7 linked regions of the Homo sapiens genome follow. The protein of the gene in region 1 purifies or fractionates together with the protein of each later gene. This does not show direct contact. Each region holds a gene or a part of one and is shown in the gene's direction. Other genes may lie near its edges. The genes, in order: DDX31, PRR4, NUCB1, DMBT1, CP, PIGR and GC.

What was found.
Region 2: the proteins of DDX31 (region 1) and PRR4 purify together in Homo sapiens (affinity purification with mass spectrometry; 2 studies listed by BioGRID and IntAct, with this or other methods). This does not show direct contact.
Region 3: the proteins of DDX31 (region 1) and NUCB1 purify together in Homo sapiens (affinity purification with mass spectrometry; 2 studies listed by BioGRID and IntAct, with this or other methods). This does not show direct contact.
Region 4: the proteins of DDX31 (region 1) and DMBT1 purify together in Homo sapiens (affinity purification with mass spectrometry; 2 studies listed by BioGRID and IntAct, with this or other methods). This does not show direct contact.
Region 5: the proteins of DDX31 (region 1) and CP purify together in Homo sapiens (affinity purification with mass spectrometry; 2 studies listed by BioGRID and IntAct, with this or other methods). This does not show direct contact.
Region 6: the proteins of DDX31 (region 1) and PIGR purify together in Homo sapiens (affinity purification with mass spectrometry; 2 studies listed by BioGRID and IntAct, with this or other methods). This does not show direct contact.
Region 7: the proteins of DDX31 (region 1) and GC purify together in Homo sapiens (affinity purification with mass spectrometry; 2 studies listed by BioGRID and IntAct, with this or other methods). This does not show direct contact.

Annotation. Positions count from the first base shown.
Region 1 is NC_000009.12:132,659,984-132,663,483, reverse strand, and holds part of DDX31 (ATP-dependent DNA helicase DDX31), read left to right. Parts: intron 1-66; exon of another isoform or gene 67-112; intron 113-157; exon of another isoform or gene 158-259; coding exon of another isoform or gene 260-262; intron 263-788; coding exon 789-1,045; intron 1,046-1,147; coding exon 1,148-1,223; intron 1,224-2,232; coding exon 2,233-2,276; intron 2,277-2,283; exon of another isoform or gene 2,284-2,517; intron 2,518-3,500. UniProt on the Homo sapiens protein: May have DNA helicase activity and RNA helicase activity. Probably have ssDNA and RNA dependent ATPase activity. Plays a role in ribosome biogenesis and TP53/p53 regulation through its interaction with NPM1.
Region 2 is NC_000012.12:10,846,676-10,850,969, reverse strand, and holds the start of PRR4 (proline-rich protein 4 isoform 2 precursor), read left to right. Parts: upstream 1-1,494; 5' UTR 1,495-1,532; coding exon 1,533-1,596; intron 1,597-2,562; coding exon 2,563-2,598; intron 2,599-3,602; coding exon 3,603-3,907; coding exon of another isoform or gene 3,908-3,925; intron 3,926-4,294.
Region 3 is NC_000019.10:48,906,812-48,910,311, forward strand, and holds part of NUCB1 (nucleobindin-1 precursor), read left to right. Parts: intron 1-3,500. UniProt on the Homo sapiens protein: Major calcium-binding protein of the Golgi which may have a role in calcium homeostasis. Acts as a non-receptor guanine nucleotide exchange factor which binds to and activates alpha subunits of guanine nucleotide-binding proteins (G proteins).
Region 4 is NC_000010.11:122,577,754-122,581,253, forward strand, and holds part of DMBT1 (scavenger receptor cysteine-rich domain-containing protein DMBT1 isoform e precursor), read left to right. Parts: intron 1-57; coding exon 58-87; intron 88-964; coding exon 965-1,006; intron 1,007-1,824; coding exon 1,825-2,148; intron 2,149-3,112; coding exon 3,113-3,142; intron 3,143-3,500.
Region 5 is NC_000003.12:149,219,030-149,223,039, reverse strand, and holds the start of CP (ceruloplasmin precursor), read left to right. Parts: upstream 1-1,210; 5' UTR 1,211-1,247; coding exon 1,248-1,393; intron 1,394-4,010. UniProt on the Homo sapiens protein: Multifunctional blue, copper-binding (6-7 atoms per molecule) glycoprotein. It has ferroxidase activity oxidizing Fe(2+) to Fe(3+) without releasing radical oxygen species. It is involved in iron transport across the cell membrane.
Region 6 is NC_000001.11:206,936,467-206,939,966, reverse strand, and holds part of PIGR (polymeric immunoglobulin receptor precursor), read left to right. Parts: intron 1-503; coding exon 504-848; intron 849-2,215; coding exon 2,216-2,872; intron 2,873-3,500.
Region 7 is NC_000004.12:71,781,280-71,785,467, reverse strand, and holds the start of GC (vitamin D-binding protein isoform 1 precursor), read left to right. Parts: upstream 1-1,388; 5' UTR 1,389-1,413; coding exon of another isoform or gene 1,414-1,449; coding exon 1,450-1,507; intron 1,508-4,188. UniProt on the Homo sapiens protein: Involved in vitamin D transport and storage, scavenging of extracellular G-actin, enhancement of the chemotactic activity of C5 alpha for neutrophils in inflammation and macrophage activation.

The DNA of each region.
Region 1 (3,500 bases):
ATTCCTGTAATGGAAATAAGAAGCAACAGGCAAGAGATCCCTAGTGCTGTGTAGCCTGTAATCCGCAATCAGGCAGAGACTCGGGGACTCAGAGACTCGAAAGGCAAGGGAGGTAGGAAGTAATTGTGGTAGAGGTGATGGATGGAGCAGCATTCTCATTTGGAATGGGAACAGGGCGTAGGAATTTTCTCCAGGCCGTCTGAATCTGGAGGAGCAGCTTGAGAGGAGAGAATGAGAGAGATCCAGGCGCTAGGGTAGAATGGTAATGAATGTTTCCGCTTCCTGGGCACGGGCTGAGATGCGCATTCCCCCTCGCCCCTCTCTCCTGTGCGGTCTCCAGTGTGCTTTGTTGGTGGAGAGAAAAGATTCGTTTTCCCCCACCCCTCTTTTCTCCTTGGGTGAATGGGTTCCTAGGAATATGGATTGACACACCCTTCACAAGGTGGATTCTTGCTTCCCTTAAAACAGACTCCATTAGTTAACATTCAACTGGAAAAATGCTGCTTCTTCATCCTTACCTTATCTTGATTGATTTAACAGTTAAGAATGGCTGGTGAGGTCTGGTAGATGAGTGAGCTGAGACTTTTTTCTTTTTTCTTTTCTTTACCTTTTGGAAGAAGCTGAGTCAAAGAGTCTGATTGCAAACCCTAAACTGTTGCTTGACATATGGGGCATAATGATCTCTGCAGGGAGAGATGCAATTCTGTGGGCAGTCAGGCTTCACTCCGAGCTCTGTTTTCATGGACTAATGCATCTCTTGTTGATCTTTCCTTCTGGGAACAACGCAGCAAGCAAAGGCTACGAAAAGAAAATACCAAGCGTCCAGTGAGGCTCCCCCAGCGAAACGGAGGAACGAAACTTCATTTCTCCCAGCCAAGAAAACTAGTGTTAAAGAAACTCAGAGGACTTTTAAGGGGAACGCACAAAAAATGTTTTCTCCAAAGAAGCATTCGGTTAGCACAAGTGATAGAAACCAGGAGGAGAGACAGTGCATTAAGACTTCATCACTGTTTAAAAACAACCCTGACATTCCAGAACTCCACAGGTATGTCCAGGGGCGGATGCCCTTCAGGAAGAAAAAAATGTGTTCTGCCTTTTCTTTGTTAATATTGGCACTGATGCCTGGGTTCTTGTTCATCATTTGCAGACCTGTGGTAAAGCAGGTGCAAGAAAAAGTGTTTACTTCAGCTGCTTTTCATGAGCTGGGCCTCCACCCACATTTAGTAAGTACCTTTCAGTGTTTTCTGGGTCAGTTTTTTTTGGTGTGTTTGTCCGTTCAGAAGGTCTGTGAAATGGCCGCTCTAGGAGGAGAGATCAGAGAGTGTTTGTTTCTGCTCTAAGTTACCTGAATGAACTCAGATTGATATGATACTCTTCTAGGACAGTTCAAGGGTGCTTAGGTTACTGTTCACTGTTTTCTGGCCCCCCCTTCCCCCATCCTCTGTTTTTTTGTGTTTTTGTGTGTGTGTTTTTTTAAGTATTGAAGACTTTCCTCGACTAACGTGATTTAGGGTCAGGACATCACTTGCTAAACTTAAAACAGCTCCCTATTTACTGGATAGTTGTAGTGGTGAAGCCATTTGTGGTGGCAGATGTCACAGTGGCCATAGGAGAGGGAACTGTGCTGGCATCTTGCTGTTAAAGGACGTCCACAGTTTTAGAGAAGTAAGGGAAGAAGAGTATTTTGGTGTGTGTTCTACAAACAAATGGACACTTTAAAGGAAAAAAAGTGAGTTCTCCAGACTCATGAGTAAGAAGAAAAAAATATATTAACTTTTAGGCAGGCTTGGTTTCCTCTGCACTTTCGGTTACAGCTTACTACCCCTTCTGTAGGGTGGGTTACCTAAACTTGTTTTCTCACCTGGGGGGTGGATCAGGGTTTCTCAGCCTTGGTGCTGTGGACATTTTGGACTAGGTCAGTCTTAGTTTTGGGGACTGTCCTGTGCACTGTAGGATGTTCAGCAGCATCCCAGGCCTCTACCCACTAGATGCCAGCAGTGCCCCCCTCCCCTGGTTATAACAAGCACAAATTTTTCCAGACTTTGCCCTGTGTCCCCAGGGAGTTAGGGCGGGTGGCAGAATCGCCCCAAGTAGAGAGCACCACCTGGGTGGAGGAACTTAATTTGATCATAGTAGTCAATGTTCTCTCAATAGTTTCTCCTTTCTTGTGTAATTTCCGTTAAATATTTTGTATCAAAATATTAATTAAAGCTTTTTCATCTCCTCTTTTAGATTTCCACAATAAATACGGTCTTAAAAATGTCTAGTATGACCAGGTAAGAACTTCAGGCTCCTCTTGATTTCTTAGGCATTACGTGGGTATAACCGGACGAAACCTGTGTGTGCAAGGCAGAGCAAATTTGTGTCTTGGCGTTGGAACACAGTGCCAGGTTATCGACCATAAAGGGTTGTCGTCTCACTTAGCTACTCATTCTCTCCACCTGTTAAATGGAAAGACTGGCTTTCCATCCAGTTCTGCCCTTGGCTCTGAACCGCAAGAGACGTCTCATCCAGAAGGTGGGCTGCATGAGCGCCGCTGTTTTCTGTGCTTCCCTGAAAAGAATTTGGCCAAAATATAGCATGTGACCATGTCGTTTCTTAGTAGTAAGAATTAGGGTCAACCAAAAAGACAAGAGTAAATGTTCAGTTGGATAGAGTGGGATACTGAAAAAATGTTTTCAATGTTTGTTACAGGGAATGACTCCTGGAAAATAAAGAAGTAAAATAGGTGCGAGGAGATGAGCTTCCTTGTTTTGAGTATTTGTGCTTCTGTGCATTTTCATAATGATTTTTTACTTTTACTAGTAAAAATTAATAGGAATATTAAAGTCCAAATTAAGGGACCTCCCCACAAGTTTTTTATCAACCAAATTTAAGTGATTTTTGTGTCTCTTTTGTTTCTTGTTTTAAAATACATGTGTAGACACACATTTCAGCATGTCCATAACCTTTTCCTGGAGAATGGACAGCTGCTGCTGGCTCTCTGAATAGTTGGCGAGCTTCCTCCTGCTATCCTGCATGGAAACCTTTCCATTATGTTTCGTTGTGTTTCATATTCCTGTTAGTGAGGGCAAGAGTGTGTGATACACTTGGTGGTAACTCTGATTTGTTGTCATGCCTGTTTCTTTTTCTTTTTTTTTTTTTTTTTGAGACGGAGTTTTGCTCTTGTTGCCCAGGCTGGAGTGCAGTGGTGCGATCTTGGCTCACTACAATCTCTGCCTCCCAGGTTCAAGCGATTCTCCTGCCTCAACCTCCTGAGTAGCTGGGATTACAAGTGCGTGCCATCACTCCCAGCTAATTTTTTGTATTTTTAGTAGAGATGGGGTTTCATCATGTTGGCCAGGCTGGTCAAACTCCTTACCTCAGGTGATCCACCCACCTCAGCTTCCCAAAGTGCAGGGATTACAGGTGTGAGCCACTGCAGTCGGCTGCCTGTCCCATTTTTAAAAGAATTAGTTTAATAGAATGGCCAGTCTCTGGTTTGCCTCACCATTTTCAGG
Region 2 (4,294 bases), on another chromosome or scaffold:
GTCTTTAAGATTTCCAGTCACATTCCCCCGACCCTGTCATACTTCCAACCAAGCTATCCTCAAATTATCACCAGCCCTGTACAAAAATGTAACAATAATACGAGACCTATACAATGCCTGTAATGAAAAGTGGCAGCTGGTGATACTGATTGATCTAGGGGTTCCATGAAAATATAAGCAGAAAACTACTAGATAGGACAGAAAAATCAGCAGGTGAAGATTAAGCTACCAACTCAGGACCCTACCAAACTTTTCAGAAACACAAAACCTTGGTGCCAAATTTTAAAAACAAAAAAGAAGAAAGCAAGCAAAGAGAAGTACAGAACCTTGTTTAGAAAATCAAATAAAGATTTCTCCCAGAACGCATGAAGAAAGCAGTAAGATATAAAACATAGACATAGGGAGGATTGATTCACAATATAACATATCAACAAGTAAGGTTCAGCACAAGAGTGAAGAAGAATGAGTATAAGAATATTGCAGAGAAAATAATCTTTGGTAAAGGCAATCTGAGAAGCAAATAGAATGGAAACTAATTAAAAAATAGAAAATCAATGTAATACTTGAGGCTTTCAACAGGCTATCATACTATCTAATTAGATTGTATTATTGTGTCCACTCAATAACCAGTGTGATTAAAATATTTGGTACAAGAAGTAAGACCTAAACTGAATCATATAGAACATTCTAGAAAAGAGAAAGATCATGGAAGAAGTCTTAGGGACATAAAATAGCATGGCTTGTTCAAGGAACTGTGTATTCACACTGTTCTGATGCAGAAATCTAATGGTGCTTTCTGTGGCCAATTTTGCCTTACTAACCTCCAGGGTATTAATAAAGATAGAATGTTTTAATACCTGTGTTCTACAACAATAAAGTATCTCTGGTTAATGCTAGATTAGGAGAATCTTAATCTCTTTGGGCCAGAGTAGCCTGAGGGTAAAACTTCTGTCATCCACGTGTGCCCAAGTGTGTGTTGTCCTCACACAACTCAACATTAAACAGAAATGATCTCTATATTATTATGAAATTAAGCTACATATCATCCATATAGGTATATATGCTATAAAAATGGAATTTATGCTACACTAATAGCTAGAGATATTAATCATTTTCACTTCTGGCTATAAGATCACTGCTGACAAACATATACAAACGTAAGCACGTGTGCACACAGACAACCAATGAAGGGGAAAGACTAACTGTCTAACCCAATTGAAAATCAAATGATGACCAAACTTCAATTGTAGTATTTGTGCTGATTGCTTGGATACTGTTTCTTCAGAAACTATGCTCAAGTCACAGTTTGTACCTAACCACATCCTACCACCACATCCTGCTGGGCTAAAATCCCAAAAAGTAATAAGAGACGCATTCAACTTTATGAGAGGAAAGCAAAACCTAATCTTTCAGGTGGTGAGGTCCACCCAGTATGGAGCTCAAAGGTGCCATTGTTCTGCTCATGTTTATAAAGGGAGCTGCCATGTTTCTCTCAACGCAGAGTTGGGAGCAACTCCAGAGCCTCCTTCAAGATGCTGCTGGTCCTGCTCTCAGTGGTCCTTCTGGCTCTGAGCTCAGCTCAGAGCACAGATAATGGTAAAAAAATTATTTTTTTAAAAAAGGAGATGGGGAGTGGGATGAGGGGCCATGACTCTTCTAGGGCCTCAGGGGTTCACCCTACACCACTGCAGCGGAAGAGCAGGAGGGGAGGAAGGAGGTTGAGAAGAAGGGTAGGGCTTTGGAGCTCTCATTCCAAGGATGACATCTGTTGTGCCCTCATTCCATGCCAAGGCCTTATACTTTATTTGATATACACTTGGAACCCAATAGAGAATTTCAATTAGAGGAATGACAAAGTAAGATTTGTATTTTTAGAAAGACCTGGCTGTGCTGTGAAGGATGCAGTGGAGAATGCAAGACTGATCCAGGGAAGTCCAGCTATGAAGATGCTACAGTAATCTCAGTGGACAGCGATGATGGTGTCCTTGCTGTACAGGGGATGCAGAATCAATGAAAGAGATAAACAAACATCAGAGTACTGTCAGACATAGAGGACTGGATAATACATTTGTGTCTTTCTACATAGTGGTATAGAAATATCAGGTCCCCAAATTCCCATTTTTCTTCCAATCACATTTAAAATTTCAATATGTTGCAGGCAGCATGTGTAAGATTATATCCAAATATTTACTCCTGGTTGCTCCTCTTGGGCAAGCTTGTGAATATGATCAAAATATTTAAAGAAGGAAGAAGGTAAAGATCTAAAATATGACATGAAAATACCCAGAGAAGTGTGCCTAAATTAGCATTAGGGTTTGAGGGATCCTAAGGATGACAAAAAGGGACTCTTCTATTGAATTCGTGGTTGATGCTCAGCGATAGTAACAATCCTGCCTCCCCTAACATCTTCCTCCCCTTCCAGCAGCTTCACAGAACATGGTTGATGAGGTAACTTAGGGGATGCACAGGGTGTGGCCAGAAGACCCCTTTCCCTATAGACCACTATGAGCCCTGAAAGATTTATGAGGTAATGTTCACTTCATCCTGTGCTTCTTTTCCTAGATGTGAACTATGAAGACTTTACTTTCACCATACCAGGTAAATCCCAATGATCCTCAATCCAATTCTTTTCTTTCTTTTTCCACTAGAATTTCTTTTTAGTTTCCTTCAGTGTCTTCTTCTCATCATTTTTTTGGGAGGAGGTGGTAAGAGGGGTCAGGCATTGATTAATATTAGTGCCCCTAAATATATAGGCAATTCTTACCCATCTTTGATTCTGGGGACCATGAGCCAGGCCACCAACTTGAATACAGAGATGCCTGGCTTTGAGGACAATAGGAGTGGGCAGGCTTTTTTCCCAGGCTGGAATGACTGCTGAGAGATGATGAACAAATGAGAAGTGTTCTCATTCTGACTCCTCCATCCTTAACTGCTTCTTTCTTCCCCCAGTGTTCCCCCGCACGGTTATGTGGCTTCAGGGAGTAACACAAAACAAAACAAAAAAATCACTGCATGAATGTCTTTTCTCTGTGTTGACCCACTCAGCTGTGTCACTACAGATGATAAATAGTTGCCACAGCTGTTTAGTGATCATGTGCAGGCTTTCACATTGTCTTTCTCTTCTGTCTCTTAGTATTTCTCTACTTGGTTCCAGGAGCCTGGGAAATCAGCTCTAGTTTCCACATAGGGCTTAGGTGCCCAGAGATGGAGTCACAGTTTGTAAGTCATTACAGCAACCAAAAAATAAAAATAAAAAATAACCAGTAACATAACTGAAAGCTATAATGCTTTTGCTTTTTTTTTTTTTTCTGTCCTTGGAGACATCCTCTGGCAACTCTAAGATATGCAAGAACCCCTCTTTTCATTTAAGGAAACATACTTGTCACAGGAGCAAATAAATGAGACTTTCCATATCACTCTTACATGGATTAAGTTGAGAGCTGCATAAAAAGAAAAAAAAAACAGTGGGCACAAAAGAAGTTGACAGTCAAGCAGCAGGTTTGGGGAGAACAGGGCTGTGTGGTAAGGTGAGAGAAGTATAAAGAGAGGAGAGTTTTTCTTCACTGAGCTCATGCATTCTTGTCCATTAATTACTCACACAGATGTAGAGGACTCAAGTCAGAGACCAGATCAGGGACCCCAGAGACCTCCTCCTGAAGGACTCCTACCTAGACCCCCTGGTGATAGTGGTAACCAAGATGATGGTCCTCAGCAGAGACCACCAAAACCAGGAGGCCATCACCGCCATCCTCCCCCACCTCCTTTTCAAAATCAGCAACGACCACCCCGACGAGGACACCGTCAACTCTCTCTACCCCGATTTCCTTCTGTCAGCCTGCAGGAAGCATCATCATTCTTCCAGAGGGACAGACCAGCAAGACATCCCCAGGAGCAACCACTCTGGTAATCTAGAATTCAGTGGCAGGTATGATTCCAGTTCATTCTCCATTAAATGCCCAAACTGCTACCATTCCCAAACTTTATCGTGTTCACAAATCAATTGGAAATATGTTGAAATTACATAATCCTGGACCCCATTTCTAAAGATTTGTATTCAGATATTCTTGGATAAGGTTGCAAGTCCTTGTATTTTTAACAAGTGGTTCAAAGAATTCTTATCTTTTGAAATACTGACCTCCCCAACTTTTTTCTTAAGATGACTTGTCTCATTAAAATGAGTTGGTAATGAGGAAGTGGGGTGTGCTCTCCCTTTGGTGCTCTGCCTCCTGTCTTTGAGTCTGCCTTCTCAAACCCAAGGACTCTCCATCTCAGGTTTCTCTCAGGTTTCCGCCAG
Region 3 (3,500 bases), on another chromosome or scaffold:
TAGTTAACATTTGCTCCATTTGCTTTGTCACTCACGTTTGGGACTTCACCACAGTCACCATCTCATCACCCTTACACATTTCAGTGTGATACTCTTGCATAAGTACAGCGATAAAATCGGGAGATTTATCAGGTCACACTGTTTTTCCTTGCTCAGCTAATATCTTTCTTTTTTTTTTTTTGAGACAGAGTCTCGCTCTGTCACCCAGGCTGGAGTGCAGTGGTGCAATCTCGGCTCACTGCAAGCTCCGCCTCCTGGATTCACGCCATTCTTGTGCCTCAGCCTCCCAAGTAGCTGGGACTACAGGCGCCCGCCACCATGCCCAGCTAATTTTTTGTATTTTTAGTAGAGACGGAATTTCACTGTATTAGCCAGGATGGTCTTGATCTCTAACCTCGTGATCCGCCCACCTCGGCCTCCCAAAGTGCTGGGATTACAGGTGTGAGCCACCGCGCCTGGCCTTTTTTTTTTTTTTTTTTGGTGAGACAGAATCTTGCTCTGTCTCCCAGGCTGCACTACAGTGGCGCGATCTCGGCTCACTGCAACCTCCGCCTCCTGGGTTCAAGCAATTCTCCTGCCTCAGCCTCCCAAGTAGCTGGGATTACAGGTGTGTGCCACCACACCTGGCTAATTTTGTATTTTTAGTAGATACTTGATTTTGCCATGTTGGCCAGGCTGGTCTTGAACTCCTGACTTCAAGTGATCCTCCTGTCTCGGCCTTCCAAAGTGCTGGGATTACAGGCCTGAGCCACCAGCCTTGGCCCCCATCTTAAGGTCTTTAATGTAATCCCATCCGCCAGGACCCCTTAGCCCGGAAAGGTCACGCATTCACAGGTTCCGGGGATCAGGATGTGGATATCTTTTAGGGCACCAGTATCCAGCTGCCACAACACCCAGGCTCTTCCCGTCCCTCCTCTGCCCAGAGCCTGCCCCCGGCACCCCAGTGCCCTCAGGCCCGCATTCATGTTCCTCTTGTCTGCTCGGAGCCTGGGTGGACCTTGGCCACACCCGCCCAACCCTGCCCTTCCCGTATGCACCCTGACCTTCTTGCGTCAGCATTTTTAGAAATTGCTGGCGTGCAGCCTTGGGACCTTTGTCCGTTCGCCCCGCTCTCCCGTGACATTCTTTCTCAGGGCTCTTTGCCTGGTCCATGGACCTTCCATCTCCCCTGGAATGTCACCTCCTCAGGGTGTCACCGCCCCGGCTGTCCTGTGTGAAGGAGCCTCTGTGTTATTTGTGTCCTTGGTATTCCTTTGTTCATCCCTTGGTCGCCTGTTCTCTGTCTCTCTAGACTGGGTGCTCCAAGAGGCAGAACTCTTTTGGTTGTTGTTGTTTTTGAGACAGAGTCTCACTCTGTCGCCCAGGCTGGAGTGCAGTGGCGCGATCTCGGCTCACTGCAACCTCTGCCTCCCAGGTTCAAGCGATTCTCCTGCCTCAGCCTCCTGAGTATCTGGGATTACAGGTGCCCGCCACCATACCTGGCTAATTTTGTATCTTTAGTAGAGACAGGGTTTCACCATGTTGGCCAGGCTGGTCTCAAACTCCTGACCTCAGGTGATCCACCCGCCTCAGCCTCCCAAATTGCTGAGATTACAGGCATGAGCCACCCCGCCTGGCCTCCAAGAGTCAGAATTCTGTCATCATTTGATTCCTGCTGTGTCCATAGCGGCCGGCGCTGGGTCAGCCTGGAATAGCGGCTCAACACACGTCCCTGGCACAAATAATGAATTTGAGATTCAGTTTGTACCTGTGTCCTGCACACCTGTCACTCCTCTGGGCTCAGCCAGGGCCGGAGCTGCCTCCACTGCAGCCTAGGTCTCCCAAATTCTAGCTGCCCGTGTGTGTGTGTGTGTGTGTGTGTGTGTGTGTGTGTGTGTGTGTGTGTGTCTTTCTGCCCACTTGACCAAGGGGTGTGTGTGTGTGTGTGTGTGTGTGTGTGTGTGTGTGTGTGTCTTTCTCCCCACCTAACCAAGGGCCACTGGAGGCCAGGGCCAGGCTGATTCATTTTGGGTCCAGCATTGCACAGCGCAGGCCTGGGCCCCTAGAAGCCTCGGGAGACATGCGTGCGGTAAGTGTGTGTTGGCAGCGTGTGCGCTGTCCTTTCCTGCCTGGAAACCCTACCCCTTCCTGACTACTTGGAAACTCCCATATGAGGGAGGCTGCACTTGTTTGCTGAGGCCGCTGTAACCAAGTACCACTGACCAGGTGCTTCAGCAACAGAACTTGACTGTCTCATGGCCTGCAGTCAGAGTCCAAAGTGAAAGTATTGGCAGGGTTGGTTCCTTCTGGGGCTATGAGGGAGGATCTGTACCAGGCCCCTCTCCTTGGCTTGCAGATGGCCGTCTTCTCACTGCATTTTCACACCATCTTTCCTCTCTGTGTGCCTGGCCCAAATTTCTCCTTCCATTATTATTTTTTATTAATTATTATTATTATTATTTTTTTTTTTTTCCAAGACAGAGTTTTGCTCTCGTTGCCCAGGCTGGAGTGCGGTGGCGCGATCTCAGCTCACTGCAACCTCTGCCTCCCAGGTTCAAGCGATTCTCCTGCCTCAGACTCCTAAGTAGCTGGGATTACAAGCACGCGCCACCACGCCTGGATAATTTTGTATTTTTAGTACAGATGGAGTTTTGCCATGTTGGGCAGGCTGGTTTCGAATTCCTGACCTCAGGTGATCCACCCGCCTTGGCCTCCCAAAGTGCTAGGATTACAGGTGTGAGCCACCGCGCCCGGCCTATTATTATTTTGAGACAGGGTTTCACTTCTATCCTCCAGGCTAGAGTGCAGTGGTGCGATCTCGGCTCACTGCATCCTCCCCCTCCCACGCTCAAGTGATTCTCCTGCCTTAGCCTCCTGAGCAGCTGGGACTACAGGCACACACCACTGCACACAGCTAATTTTTATATTTTTTGTAGAGATGGGGTTTCACCATGTTGCCCACGCTGGTCTCGAATGCCTGAGCCCAAGTGATCCTCCCACCTCAGTCTCCCAAAGTGCTGGGATTACAGGCATGAGCCACTGTGCCCAGTCATAAATTTCTGCCTTTTATAAGGTCACCAATCATGTTGGATTAGGGCCCACAGTAATGACCTCATCTTAACCTGATTCCCTCTGTAAAGACCTAGTCTCCAAATCAGGTCACATTCTGAGGTACTGGGGCTTAGGACTTCAACATAGAAACTTAGGAGCGTGCAATTTAACCCCTAAGATTGGTTGATGCTTTATCAAAAATTTTGATGTTTTTCTTTTGTTTGTATGTATGTATTTATTTTATTTATTTATTTTTCAGACGGAGTCTCACTCTGTCACCAGGCTGGTGCAGTGGCGTGATCTCGGCTCACTGCAACCTCCGCCTCCCAGGTTCCAGTGATTCCCCTGCCTCAGCCTCCCAAGTAGCTGGGGCTACAGGTGCGCACCACCATGCCCAGCTAATTTTTTATGTTTTTATTAGAGATGGGGTTTCACCATGTTGGCCAGGATGGTCTCAATCTCTTGATCTT
Region 4 (3,500 bases), on another chromosome or scaffold:
ACTCTACTTGGAGTCACTGAGTGTTTGGTGTCTAATGTTGCTATTTTTTTCTCACAGCTGCCCAGCCTCAGTCAACACTCAGGCCAGGTGAGTCCCCAGAATCCTTCCTCGGGATACCCCTTCTCTTTCTGCTCAGTTACCCCTTCCCTACTCCACAGAGCCCTCCTGCTTCTCTGCAGATACTCTGGGGCATATTATTTCACCCCCAACTCTGTAACTGAGACCCTAGCATGGGGCTTCTTAACCACACATGGGATTTAGCTTCTGCCTTCTCTTCAGTCCATCTCAGCTTTCATCACACAGTTCCATGCTGTCCCAATGAACAACTCTTAGAAGTTCAGAAAGAAGCCTGCTGTTTAATGAGCTTTGGCCTCTTTATATTCAGGGCTGACACAACCTTTCTGAGAATTGAGGGTGAGACCCTCTAATGTTCTGTTGAAGGCAAGGTCAGTACAGGCTTGATACCCCCATCTCTCACTACTTGAAAAACCCCCAGATTCTGCAGGGCCACGTCTGCATTCAGAAGAGGCAGAGGCCATGCTGAGGGGAGAGAGAGGCTAAGAAATGTTTCTGGTGCCTTCACTTACCAGGAAACCTGATTTCCCCCAGGGCGGACCCCTAGTATCCCGAACATTTTAGCTGCAAGTGTCAAGTCTTGGCAGTGGTGTCAGATGAGCCAGTCAGTCCACGCGTCAGTGGATGGTGGGGGATGGGGGTGGTGAAGGTTTCCTAACTGCGAATAGGTCATCCCTCTCTCAGAGAGAGGTGGAAGGGCCTGCATGGTGTCCTTTGTCCCTGAATGAGTTCCCTGGGCAGGAGACCTGGGCAGACACATGGGGAGCAAGTGGCCAGACCTTCGAGTGGAATTGTTTTCACAGTGCTTGCCTGGTCCAGAGAACCGCTTGTTTTTTACCTTTTTCCCTTCAAGTCCAATTGTATCCTTTCTCTTTGTTGCTGTTTACAGAAAGTTGGCCTGTCAGGATATCACCACCTGTACCCACAGAAGGTAAAGAATCCTCTCAACACTCCCTGGGGCTCACTTTCTACCTCTGGATACACTTTGGATTTCATAGTTCACTTATGATTGCCATAAAGAGAGGTGGGGAAGTGGGCTAAGCGTGGGAGGGTGGCAGCAGGTGATAAACAGTTGGCTCAAGAGTCAGCTCGGCACTGGGAACAAGAGCAGGACCTCCCAGAAGATCATTAGGAATCATTAGGCTCATGATAGGATGAGGCTCAAGGTGGGCCCCTTGCTTTTTCATGTTTCTGTGGGTTGGGTAGGGAGGAAGCTGGAGTCTCTGAAAACCCAGAATTAGATGTGATATTGGAGGGTGGAGGGTGCTGGTGACCTGTCTCCTGTGGGATCCTGTTCCAAGTGGTCAGAAAAGATCCTTATCTATGGGCTCAGAACAAGCCCTGGGGGTCTCCCTAATCCTATGGGGACCTCATCCCTGCCATCTCTGGTACTCTGCCAGTCAGATCCCAGATAGGACCATGCTCCTGAATAAGGGAGGGGTCTGGGCCTGCCATCTGGAGCTGAGCAGCTCCATCCTCTGTGTACCCAACTGGGGAGTGGGGCATCCATTCCCATCACATCCACTGGGGTCACAGGTGCTTCCCCAAAAGTTGAGCATCCATAGACCTGGGCAGAGTAGGTTATCAGTGCTACTTTCACGGTGATGAAGCCTAGTCTGTGGTCATATGCAAAGGTGACTGCCTGCCTAGGTGACTTAGTTCATTAGGAAGTACCCTGAGTGTGGAACTTACCTTAGATTCTTGACCTCATGATAGGGATGGATGAAGGGTTCTTGTGTTCCCCTGTAGGATCTGAATCCAGTTTGGCCCTGAGGCTGGTGAATGGAGGCGACAGGTGTCGAGGCCGAGTGGAGGTCCTATACCGAGGCTCCTGGGGCACCGTGTGTGATGACTACTGGGACACCAATGATGCCAATGTGGTCTGCAGGCAGCTGGGCTGTGGCTGGGCCATGTCAGCCCCAGGAAATGCCCAGTTTGGCCAGGGCTCAGGACCCATTGTCCTGGATGATGTGCGCTGCTCAGGACATGAGTCCTACCTGTGGAGCTGCCCCCACAATGGCTGGCTCACCCACAACTGTGGCCATAGTGAAGACGCTGGTGTCATCTGCTCAGGTGGGCCTTCAAGAACTTGGGCTCACTCTCTTGGGGTGGAGTTTGCTCCAAAAGAAACTCCTAATTACATTCTGATCTCCTCACTCAAAGCTTCTATGTTTTCTATGTTTCTGAAGACTTGTCAGCTCTCTGCTAAGAATCCATATGTACTCACTGCCTAGTGTTCCTGTGGTCACTTAGGACAGGGGATCAAACTAAAACAACCCAGAGTTTTTCCCCTTCCTGAGGCAAGGCAAGGAAGAGGCAGAAGAGAAAAGTGCCGGCTCCCCAGGGCTCCATTTCTCCCCTGCTGAGTAGCACGGTGTGAGGGTATAATGGATGCAGCACAGACAGCAAGGCAGGGGAGGGATCCCCTCACTGCGAGGAACTCTGAACTAAAGATGCTTGGCTAAAAGTGGGTTCTCAGCTGAGACCCAGTGAGGAGGTCTGGAAATAGAGGCTCAAGGGTTAGGAGTGCAAATGGGTGTCTGTTTGTATCAGGCCTGGGTTGCGTGGGGTTGGAGTTCTTGACCTCAGCTCTTCTCAGAACGCTGCTGAGCATTGCCTGTGTTCTAGGTCTGGTGAGGGGAGGGCAGTCCCCATGAGGCCAGCCAGACATGGCCTTGTCATTGCCTGTGATTGGGGCTTGAAGATCGCACAAGGGATTTTGGCTGGAGTGGCTTCCTCAGCCTTGCTGACTCAGGAACACCTAAGATGTGCAAGGGAGTGGGTTGGTTTAGGTCAACCGGGTTACCCTGGGCAGACACAATTTGATCACCTCAGAGCTGGCAATAGTGGACAGGATCTGCCTCGACCCCTTACACGGTGCATCTCTGTGGGGATGTGCATGGCAATGTCCCTCCCTGTGTGATAGGAACTAGGATGGACTGAGTGTCAGACTCGCTCATTTCTTTCCCTCCTCGTTCCAGTTTTGCCGACTTCTGTGTAATGTTCCTGATCTGACCTTCTCTTCTCTTTCTCACAGCTCCCCAGTCCCGGCCGACACCCAGCCCAGGTAGGTCCCCAGTGTCCTTCCTCAAAATGTCCCTTCTCTTTCTGCCCAATCACCCCTTCCACACTCCACAGAGCTCTCCTGTTTCTCTGTGTGGATACTGTGGGGCATATTATTTCCACCCCCAACACCGGCTGTGTAACTGAGATCCCAGCACAGCGCTTTTTAAACACACACAGGATTGAGGAGGCCTCTGTCTTCTTTTCAACCCCTCTCAGCTTTCATGAAACAGTTTCATACTGTCCCAGTGGACAACCCTTACAGGTTCAGGAAGTGGCCCCATGTTTAATGAGCTTTGGTCCTTTTATATTCCGGACTCACATATAGTTTCTGAAAATTGAGGGTGTCACCCTCTGACCCG
Region 5 (4,010 bases), on another chromosome or scaffold:
AAAATTATACTAACACAAAGTGTCAACTGTTATCAGGATTTTCTTCAGCTAAAAAAAAAAGCCATTTCATACTTTTAGACATATACTTCCTGACTAAAAACAGGGTTTTAAGAAAAAGTCTTCCACCTTAAAATTCATATCCACTTCAAAGAGAAAAATTTCAGTCTAATGATAAACTGGGGTACTTTCTATTTACTAAGACTAATCTTTGCCTCTGAAGACAGGTTTAGTTATGGTTTGTTTATTTGATGATTAAAACAAAGTTATTAGCCCCTGTTAGGCTCTGCTAGTTATTTGCATATAGCAATACAGAATGATCTGGTAAAGTTTTTATGCAGATTTGGTCCAAGCTCATAAAACAGATAAATTCTTCCAAATTAAATTCTTATTTTTGTTTACTTAAATTTGGCATGCTAGATATCATGTTTCATATCATAAAGCTGCAATTAATCATTTGTTAGACTTTTAGAAATAGTCATGCACCACATAATAATGTTTGAGTAAATGACAAACTGCATATGTGATGGTGGTCCCATAAGATTATAATAACATATTTTTACTGTACATTTTCTATGTTTGCATATGTATAGATACAGAAATATCATTGTGTTACAATTGTCTATAGCATTCAGCATAGTTATAGACTGTACAGGTTTGTAGCCTAGGAGCAATAGGTATACCATATAGCCTACCTAGATGTATAGTAGGCTATATCATATAAGTCTGTGTAAGTACACTCTGTGATAGTCACACAATGACAAAATAGCCTAACAATGCATTTCTCAGAACGTATCCCTGTCATTAAGAATGACTGTAGTAAAAAGCTACATGTTTTGATTCATTTTACATAATTCTTATCCTGATTTACTAAAAGTGCACTGTTTGCAGGACACTGTGCTGTGACATATTGTCAGAGGAACAAAGGGAGCATTTAGACACGTTCTCTGCCCTCCTGGAATTTACACAATGAATGGAAAAAGGCACAGAGTTATGCACACCCTAATGCCTCCAACAATAACTGTTGACTTTTTATTTTCAGTCAGAGAAGCCTGGCAACCAAGAACTGTTTTTTTGGTGGTTTACGAGAACTTAACTGAATTGGAAAATATTTGCTTTAATGAAACAATTTACTCTTGTGCAACACTAAATTGTGTCAATCAAGCAAATAAGGAAGAAAGTCTTATTTATAAAATTGCCTGCTCCTGATTTTACTTCATTTCTTCTCAGGCTCCAAGAAGGGGAAAAAAATGAAGATTTTGATACTTGGTATTTTTCTGTTTTTATGTAGTACCCCAGCCTGGGCGAAAGAAAAGCATTATTACATTGGAATTATTGAAACGACTTGGGATTATGCCTCTGACCATGGGGAAAAGAAACTTATTTCTGTTGACACGTAAGTCACTATTTTTATTGTTTATAGACCAAAATTTTAAGTTATTTTTAAAGGATAGAGCCAATAAGATGAAATATTTTTAAAATTTCTTATATACAGAAACTGCAAAATGTGGGCTTGAAACCCAAGACACTTGAATCAATCTCCTTTATATTCCTGTATATTTTTTATTTGGTGGACTACCCTGCTTCTTTCCTGTTGTTCCTGGGGATCTGTGTTCACATCTTACTACCTCCCATGGTCGTAACTGCATCTCCGATTAGGAATCTGTCTTTTTATGTGTTTATGCAGAAGTTCTTTCATTTAAACAATTACTGTATACAATGTTATGTTTATTGCACCATTTAATGGTTATTCATGATAGGCATAAAATTTTTTTATATCTTTCAAAACATCACTTATAGAAATAAAATACAATTTTAGCAAATAAGATCCTGCCTGATATTTATTGAGAGACTCCAGACAGTTAAGTAGGTTAATCTTTCACAGCTTCAGGGTCCTAATTTGTAAAATGAGGATAATAAGCATAGCTCATAGGGTTATTTAAAGAGCGGGTGCATGTAAAGCTCTTAGTACAATGCTTGGCACATATGTGCATAAAAAAATGTCAGGTACTTATTAGGATGGTCCTCAAAAAGCTCCATGTAACTTAAATGTCTTCATTTTTCAGTTGGAAAATCCCCTTATTGAAAGCAATATTCACTACACAGTAAAACAAAAAGTTTAGTTCTCCTTGAAGTTTTTTGTACAGAAGTTTATCTATACTGAGGTCTTCACTTTTAATGATGTTAATTAAACATTAACCACCAAATGGGAACTTGGAATTCAAAATCAATATTCACTACATTAAAATGTATTTCAGTGGTAATAAAACACAAACAAGCCCAATGACCATCAGCTGCCAAGATTATATCTTTAAAAAACAGCTAAATAAGGATGCCGAAGTTTGTAATTATTGAATCTTATTGATGAGTATATACTATTTTCTTTAACATTATGTAAAGTTGAAATTTTTCACCATAAAAATAAATACATAACAGATACTAATATCCAATTATTATATTATGAATTTAATAATATACAATAAAGAAAGTTTCTGACCTGAAGATAAGTGGTTGTAAATAAAACTAATACATCTTGTAATTATTTCTTTTTTAACCTGGTTTTAAGGTGGTATTATCTTCTAAGGAATATGACATATTTTTACAGCTTCACCAGAAACATTATTTTGCATGGATTCAGTATTTTCTTGATTAAATATAATATAAATTATATGTGGTTTTTATTTCCAAGGAAAAAGTCAGACACATTAAAAAAATAAAAATACTATCCTTCTCTATGCCCCCACTCACCACCACTCTGCCATTGTTCGTGATCAAAAATCAAATCAGCTTTATCAGGCATAAACTAAGTGCAAGACATTGCCCTGAATATGCTTCAAAAAAAAATCTTTAATTCTAAAAATCAGGGAGTAGAAGAGTGAAGGAGTTTGTTTAGAATTTGGTGAATGGGGGCGGAGGAAATTCCTTTGTTTTTAATTACTCCTGTGGCCTGTCTGTGCCAGGGAAGCTACCCAATGAGTATAAGCCTGTTTACCCCATTGTGACTATATTAGTCTCTTCTTATGCTGCTAATAGAGACATACTCAAGACTGAGTAATTTATAAAGAAAAAGAGGTTTAATGGACTCACAGTTCCACATGACTGGGGAGGCCTCACAATCATGGTGGAAGGCAAAGGAGGAGCAAAGGCATGTCTTACATTGCAAACTTTCCCATACCTTCCTGTCATCTGAGCCCTCCAAGTCTCTAGGAAGTTCCAAACTTTCCCACATCTTGCTATCTTCTTCTGAGCCCTCCAAACTATTCCAGCCTCTGCCTGCTACCCAATTCCAAAGTCACTTTCACATTTTTGGGTACCTTTACAGTAGTGCCCCACTCCAGGTACCAATTTACTGTATTAGTCTGTTCTTACACTGCTAATAAAGACATACTCAAGACTGGGTAATTTATAAAGAAAAAGAGGTTTAATGAACTTACAGTTCCACATGGCTGGGAAGGCCTCACAATCATGGCAGAAGGCAAAGGAGGAGCAAAGGCACGTCTTACATGGCAGCAGCCAAGAAAGAGCTTGTGCAGGGGAACTCTCATTTATAAAACCATCAGATCTCATGAGACTTATTCACTACCATGAGAACAATATGGGGGAAACCACATCCATGATTCAGTTACCTCCACCTGGCCCCCTCCCTTGACATGTGGGGATTATTACAATTCAAGGTGAGATTTGGGTGGGGACACAGCCAAACCATATCAGTTACTTAAAAAGTATACTTAATAGAGATACTTAAGGCTCCTTAAAAGGAAAAATGGAGCATCTTCTAGTTGCAAAGTCCACCTCTCTTTTTGTTATTGTCCTGTGACTTTAACATCTCCTCTGGCTTCAACAATATGCTACAGTTTTGCAAACTCTAGGTGGGACTGCTTTCTCTGTGATTTTTTTCCCCCATATATCTTACCAGTGAATTTTGAATACAGCTTCAGCAATTTTGCCAATACTATGCTAAACTTTTTGCATAGATGTGTGCAGATAGCAACCTTTTGGTCCCTTCTTTGTCC
Region 6 (3,500 bases), on another chromosome or scaffold:
GGGTGGATTGCTTGAGGTCAGTAGCTCAAGACCAGCCTGGCCAACATGGAGAAACCTTGTCTCTACTAAATAGAAACCAAAATTAGCTAGCATGCACCTGTAGTCCCAACTACTTGGGAGGCTGAGGCATGAGAATCGCTTGAACCTGGGAAGCGGAGGTTGCAGTGAGCCGAGATCGTGCCACTGCACACCAGCCTGGGCGACAGAGAGAGACTTTGTCTCAAAACAATAAAAATATATAAAATAAAAAACAAGGGTTATCATAAATTTGTCATTCCCTTGTCCTTGAAATGGTTATCATTAATGAATAACAATTCCAATTTAATCATGATTAAAACAGTCACTTTATTTAATCTCAGCAATTTTCCAGCTGTGATATATGATAAATTATCAACACAGGGCCTACGTGTCAGGTAGAAAACCACATCTACTCATAGTGGGTTATCTGGAACAGGCTTTACCTCCCAAGGGCCTCAGAAAGCCTCTCTCTTCTGTTCCCACAGCCATCTCCACGAAGAGTCCCATATTTGGTCCCGAGGAGGTGAATAGTGTGGAAGGTAACTCAGTGTCCATCACGTGCTACTACCCACCCACCTCTGTCAACCGGCACACCCGGAAGTACTGGTGCCGGCAGGGAGCTAGAGGTGGCTGCATAACCCTCATCTCCTCGGAGGGCTACGTCTCCAGCAAATATGCAGGCAGGGCTAACCTCACCAACTTCCCGGAGAACGGCACATTTGTGGTGAACATTGCCCAGCTGAGCCAGGATGACTCCGGGCGCTACAAGTGTGGCCTGGGCATCAATAGCCGAGGCCTGTCCTTTGATGTCAGCCTGGAGGTCAGCCAGGGTAAGGATCCAAGCTCCTTGGGCTTCTGGGGGAAAGTTAGAGGGAATTCTCTAAGGTGCATGGAGGGCTTGAGGAGGAACTTCCTGACAAGGATGTGTAGCCGGGTTGGGGGTCAGAAGGCACCCCTTTCCCCAGGCAAAGACTTCTTTAACAGGAGAAGGAGACAGATAGGGCCTACTTGGGGGTGATGAGTGAACCCTTCTAGGACTTGGTGGCCTATAACATTTTAGGCTTTCTGGAGACCCCAGCTTAGAAGGGTATCAGAAGGACAAGTTTTCTGGTGTTTGCTACAGGTAGAAAGGGAAATCTGACATCAGGCTAAGGAGATAGAAAAGGTAGGGAGAGATTTACAGGGATCCTTAAATTCCTATCATTAATGCACCTTTCCATCAAGGTTTGGGCCGCCAAAAGGCTTCTTGTAAAATGCATATTTTTTTTTTAACCTGGGAACCCTTAGTCTTTTGGTATTATCAGGGTAAATTAGATTATTAGATCTTGACCAAAGACCAAGATCCTGAAAGGATGGGTTGCTAACAAGCCTATTCTAGTTGGAGAAAGAGAAAAAAAGAAAAGCTCTTTCTGACAAGGGTTTAACAATGAGGCTGTTTTAGATAGTCAAGGGCAACTCAAAAGAGAGGTCTACGGAGAAAAGAAATTCAGGGGGACTCCCAAAGACATGTCTTGCTCCTTTGGAATATGCATACTATTGTCTGTGGACTAAATGAGGAGGTCATTTAGGTGGGGATCAAGATTCAAAACCACAGAATCTTTAGAGGTGAAGAGGGCTTAGAGTTCACCCTAACCGGACACTTAGAAGAACATGCTGATGACGGGTATGCAGCCTCTGATTAAGCACTTTAGCAGAAACTCACTGCTCCCTGAGACAGCCCATTTCACATTTAGACTCTTGTAATTTTTAGAAACTTCTATTGTATGCGTTGAAATCCATCACCCTGCATTTACATTCATTCTGTTCATTTCAGCACACATTAATTTGGCCACCTACTACCCAGAGGCATTGTGCTTGTCACAGCAGAGGGGTCAAACATGAGAAAAACATGTTCCAGCCTTCAAGGAACTTCCAGTCCATGGAGAACATAATTACCCATACACCAGATTGGATGTAATAAGTGATGCAGATGTATCAAGAAAGCACAGGGCAGGGAGAGATTAGTGTTAGCTTGGGAAAGGTTTCATGGAGAAGACCGCTGTCAAGCTGGGCCTTCCGACAGCATTCCTCTGGGAAGGAGGGCATTCCAGGTTATAAGTCCACCCACACCCTAACTAGGAATAGCAAATAGTCCTATGTTGCAAGAAAGTAGAATCGTAACTTGCCTGCCCCCTACCTTGCACCCCTCATCCTGCAGGTCCTGGGCTCCTAAATGACACTAAAGTCTACACAGTGGACCTGGGCAGAACGGTGACCATCAACTGCCCTTTCAAGACTGAGAATGCTCAAAAGAGGAAGTCCTTGTACAAGCAGATAGGCCTGTACCCTGTGCTGGTCATCGACTCCAGTGGTTATGTAAATCCCAACTATACAGGAAGAATACGCCTTGATATTCAGGGTACTGGCCAGTTACTGTTCAGCGTTGTCATCAACCAACTCAGGCTCAGCGATGCTGGGCAGTATCTCTGCCAGGCTGGGGATGATTCCAATAGTAATAAGAAGAATGCTGACCTCCAAGTGCTAAAGCCCGAGCCCGAGCTGGTTTATGAAGACCTGAGGGGCTCAGTGACCTTCCACTGTGCCCTGGGCCCTGAGGTGGCAAACGTGGCCAAATTTCTGTGCCGACAGAGCAGTGGGGAAAACTGTGACGTGGTCGTCAACACCCTGGGGAAGAGGGCCCCAGCCTTTGAGGGCAGGATCCTGCTCAACCCCCAGGACAAGGATGGCTCATTCAGTGTGGTGATCACAGGCCTGAGGAAGGAGGATGCAGGGCGCTACCTGTGTGGAGCCCATTCGGATGGTCAGCTGCAGGAAGGCTCGCCTATCCAGGCCTGGCAACTCTTCGTCAATGAGGGTAAGACCCTAGAGAGGGAGGGGGAGTAGGTGGGGCAGTCTCGCAGGTGAGAGCCAAGCTCAGCTCCCTCTGAGTGTATTCATCAATAGTCATCAATCAGCCAACAGCATCCACTCAATGACCAGCCCCGAACTGGAGGCTGCGTGGGCTGCTGCACAGGACAGCAAGAAAAAGCAACCTCTGCCTGATGGCAGCTCCTAATTACTCTTCTGTTATCAAAGTCATTTTGATGGCTGTCCCTGCTTAACAAGCAAGAGGTGAGTAAAGCTCTTGATTGAGGCAGGACTTATAGACTGTGTTTCAGGGCTGTGGCAGGCTCTGCAGGGGTCCTCTGTCCCCTCCCCTGGCCCCTGAACAAGATGGGTGCCTCATCCCTCACATTCAGATGGAAAAAGGATTGGCTTATCTTGGTCTCAATGCGTTCCCAGGAGTGCCCCAGCCTCTAAATGTTTCACTGTCACATTTCGTAGGGTTATTTGTGAATTTCAGCACCATCTGGCCCACTCAGCCCTACTCCAGTGAGCCATCAGCATGGTGAAAGAATTAAATCCCAGCTCCTTCTCATCCCAGAGCACCCTGCATAGAGTTGCCCTCGTGAGAAGCAGCAAACCAGTACTTGCAGTTCCAA
Region 7 (4,188 bases), on another chromosome or scaffold:
TACTGAAATTTTGATAGACTCTGCCCATGTAGATAATCCTTGGCTACTGAGTTGATAATGAAGTTTTAAATCACTTATCTGCGGGACCCTGGACACAGGGCTGTCTTTAAACTCTTCCACTGAGTTCCAATGGCCTCATTAGTTTCATTGACCTTCACAGATATTATAAATTTGGAAAGCCAGTGGGAGAACGTGGCAATAACTAGAATAAGAGTAATAGGTGACATTAATCCATGTTACTATGTGATGGATGTTACCATGAGCCCTGCACCCAGATTACCTTAATTAACCTCATAGCAATGTTGTGTCAAATGTACTGAGTTATCACCACATTGCATATGAGGAAAATGAAACTTAGAGGGGTAAAATAAATTTCCCAAGGTTACACAGCTATGAAAGCTGAGTAGGGATTTGATTTTAGAGCATGTGTAACAACCTGTACCTGACCATTTCCTGAAAATAGGGCTACTGCAAAAACCAGGAGTGGAACTCATCTAATTCCAATGAATGATCTACCTATGACTCTCTAGACAAGTCACAGAATTTACCCAGTGCTCAGTTCACTCTTCTGTAAAATGAAGATGTTGGATTTCATGTCCTACAGGGCCTCTCTGAGCTCTCAAATTACATGCCCATAAAATATACTAGTTGTAAACTATTAGTAGAAGGAGCTTTAAAATCACTGTAGGGAGTCCAAGATTTGCCACTAACTTTTTATGATTGGCAGTGGTGAGCCATTTAACCTCTCCAGTTATTTGCCTCACTTCAAAGGTTATTTTTCATATATATGTCAGTGCTTCACAAAGTGCAATACAGCATAGAAATACAAAGTACTATGCCATCATCTAAAATAAGATTACTTCATAGCATCAGAATTATGGATTTAAAATATTATGTTGAATTGGCTTCTCACTCTTTTTCCCCTTTTACTTAGAACATCTGGTCTGCAATATTTTAAGGTAATGCTTATTTGTAGTAGATTTAAACAAAGAGAGGAAGAGAGGTAAAGACAGAGTTTCCGATTTTCCACTTACATATGAGAAAGGTGGGGTGTCCAAAGAAGACACACAGCCCTATACAGGGGGAGAAGGTGTGCGTTACTAACATATTAAGTAAACTTTAGTGAGGAACAGCAGTGGAAAATAATCTATATACCTTGGCTCTTTTGCAGTTTGACAAAGTTAATGATTAAAATCTCCTAGATTTTCCACTACAGTATCCCCAGGGTGTCTATTTACCTTGATTGATATTATTTTATCTCTTTTGGGCCAAAGATAACAGCCCCTTGCTTCTGTGTTTAATAATAATTCTGTGTTGCTTCTGAGATTAATAATTGATTAATTCATAGTCAGGAATCTTTGTAAAAAGGAAACCAATTACTTTTGGCTACCACTTTTACATGGTCACCTACAGGAGAGAGGAGGTGCTGCAAGACTCTCTGGTAGAAAAATGAAGAGGGTCCTGGTACTACTGCTTGCTGTGGCATTTGGACATGCTTTAGAGAGAGGTAAGATTTCTTTTGTTGTGACCATTTACAGGAATTCTTACTAGTTTAATTTTATATTATCACTTAAAAAATGAAATAAAAAGTAAGAAACAGAAGAACTGGTGAATATGTTGGGGAGAGGGATAAGGACCAGAGAGGCATTAATCAGAGCTCCACGATGCCATGTAATGTTGAATTGGAATTGACAAAAAAAATCAACACAAGAATCTTGTTAAAGAAAGTAAATGGAATGATATAATTTGTCAATTATCTCTTCCTCCTTTGTTGATAAGCAAGACCTAGAGAGAATAATTTAAAATTAGACATTTGCTAATTGTTACAAGATAATGCAAATAAAGACTGTGATCCACCATTAAGCATTTATTCAGACTTCAAATATTTATTACCATTGAGTGTAATATACCATGCCAATGATGCATGATGTCAACTTAGAGATTTCTTTGATCCCCTTAGAGGAATCTTATACATGCAGTATTTGAAAATGCATTGTATTTTTAAAAATATCCCTCACATAAAATTTTTCTATAGCTATGAAACATAACCACAAATAAGATAATTCAGTTATATTTTTCATTGAAATTATTCTTCAGATGGTGTGTTCATCTTTGGGCAATGTTTAAAAATTTTTTTACATGATAAAGACTGAGATTATGGGAAGTATACAACTTTATGAATTCTACAGCTGGGAAACTTTTCATCATTAGCTTCAATTTACTTTTCTGGCTGATTCTTTAATGTTCACAAGGGACATCTGCATTTATCCTGCTTTGTAAAATTAAGGTTTTCATTTAGTGCTGTCAGTTAACAGCCTCACCTAATTCGTACATTATTATTCATAATAGTAATGTGTTTTGCCAGTGGAATAAAATGTGTGTTCCCAAGAATTATCAGTTATTAACTGTAACATGAATAACCTTACTCTTGACTTTTTATTCTTCTTCTTACATTTACTTTTCCTTGGTCTTATTTCATCATTCAAATTATTTTAACTCGTCTTACCCATCAATTCTTAAGTAAGCTATGCGTCCTTAGGTAAGACTACAAAGTCTTTCCCAGACAGCATAGGGTATAAAAAAGCAACATAAATTGTGTCCCTTATAAGACCTCTGAATAGGCCATGTTCCAAGAAATCCCTTTAAGTCTTATTCTTTTGGCCAAGGATTTGCTGGGGCAGATCTGATCCTGAAAAATCCTACTGAAGCAGGTTCAGATCAGGGTCTTCAAACACAGAAGGTCCAATAATGGCTAGGAATTGGAATTATATATGGAGGCCATAAGCAGGAGCATGAATCACCATCTTAGACTGCTGACTCAATAGGTGCACATTGGCTTCACCTCAAAGAATGAAAGTGTCCTTTGGAGAATAACAGAGCATTCTGCAATCTATATTTCAACATTCTCAGCAGTCCTCAGATTCTGATGAAATGGATGCTAAAAACCTCCAGTCAGTCCCCTAGAAGATCTAAACTTCATTCTTATAACCCATGTGCCATATGCCAGATGATATCTTGAGACATACATAATACACTTGTAAGCATTAACTTTCAATATTTGGGGAGAGTAGTCCTGATCTATCAATTCTCTATTCTCTAATACCTGAGCATGACCCAAAGACCAAGTCAGCAGTTTACTTAGAAGCTAGCTGTGTTCTTCCTGGCAGGAAGTTACAAAGTGTACAGATTAAGGGAGTTCTGAGAACTCTTAGGTTCTGAGTAGCCTTGTATTGTGGGGGATTGGTTTGAATTGCAGTTTTCTCTGCCTGTTATAGTTCTAGAGAGCTGACCACCCACAGCATTTATTTAAGCACCTGTTTCAAAATATATTACACTCAAGACTTACCTTGAAAAGAAGTTTCTGTGGCCAAATATATTTAAGAAATGAGCCATAATTTATTCCTTCTTGGTGGTTTCACAATTCATGCCTTTGTCGTCCTAAAGGTTCTGAGAAACACTACAGGAAAGAAATCTTATCTAACTCAGAGTATCTAAACATATTGACCCTTTTCTACAATGTCTATACCTGTGGAACTATTCTTTGGAAACCTTGGGTCTAAAATGGATACTGTTACAGATGACCCTTTACTGGACAGGTTCCAATTAAGCCAGCCCTCTCCTATCAAACAGCATTGGGAATCTTGTTCCCAAGCCACTGGGTACATCTTGGAGAAGAGAGCTTACCAAATCTGCTAAATCTGGTTAGTACCATAAGAAAATGTCCACTTTTGCTACCCTATGAAAAGCAACAAGGCAGTATTTCCCAGTTGCCTACAAGTAGCTTCTTCCCCTAGGACTGAAATGGATGAAATACTAATATACAATATATCTTTCCCTCTTCCCTTCCAAAGAAACCAAGTAACAAAGACTGGTGATACAGCTATAAAATTTTTTTTTAACTTGCAGATAGAAAAGTTACCTTAATGACCAGGAAACATTTATAAAAATTGATTTTTTAAAATTAAACTACAGCAAAAAAATTCTCAGTTTTAAGTTACACACTGTTAACAGAGCACTAAAAATATTTTTTTTGCATTTTTTTCTTTTCTTTTTTTTCGATTCAAGTTTTCTTTTTTATTATTGTTATACTTTAAGTTCTAGGGTACATGTGCACAATGTGCAGGTTTGATACATATGTATACATGTGCCATGTTGGTTTGCTGACACCCATTAACTCGTCATTTACAT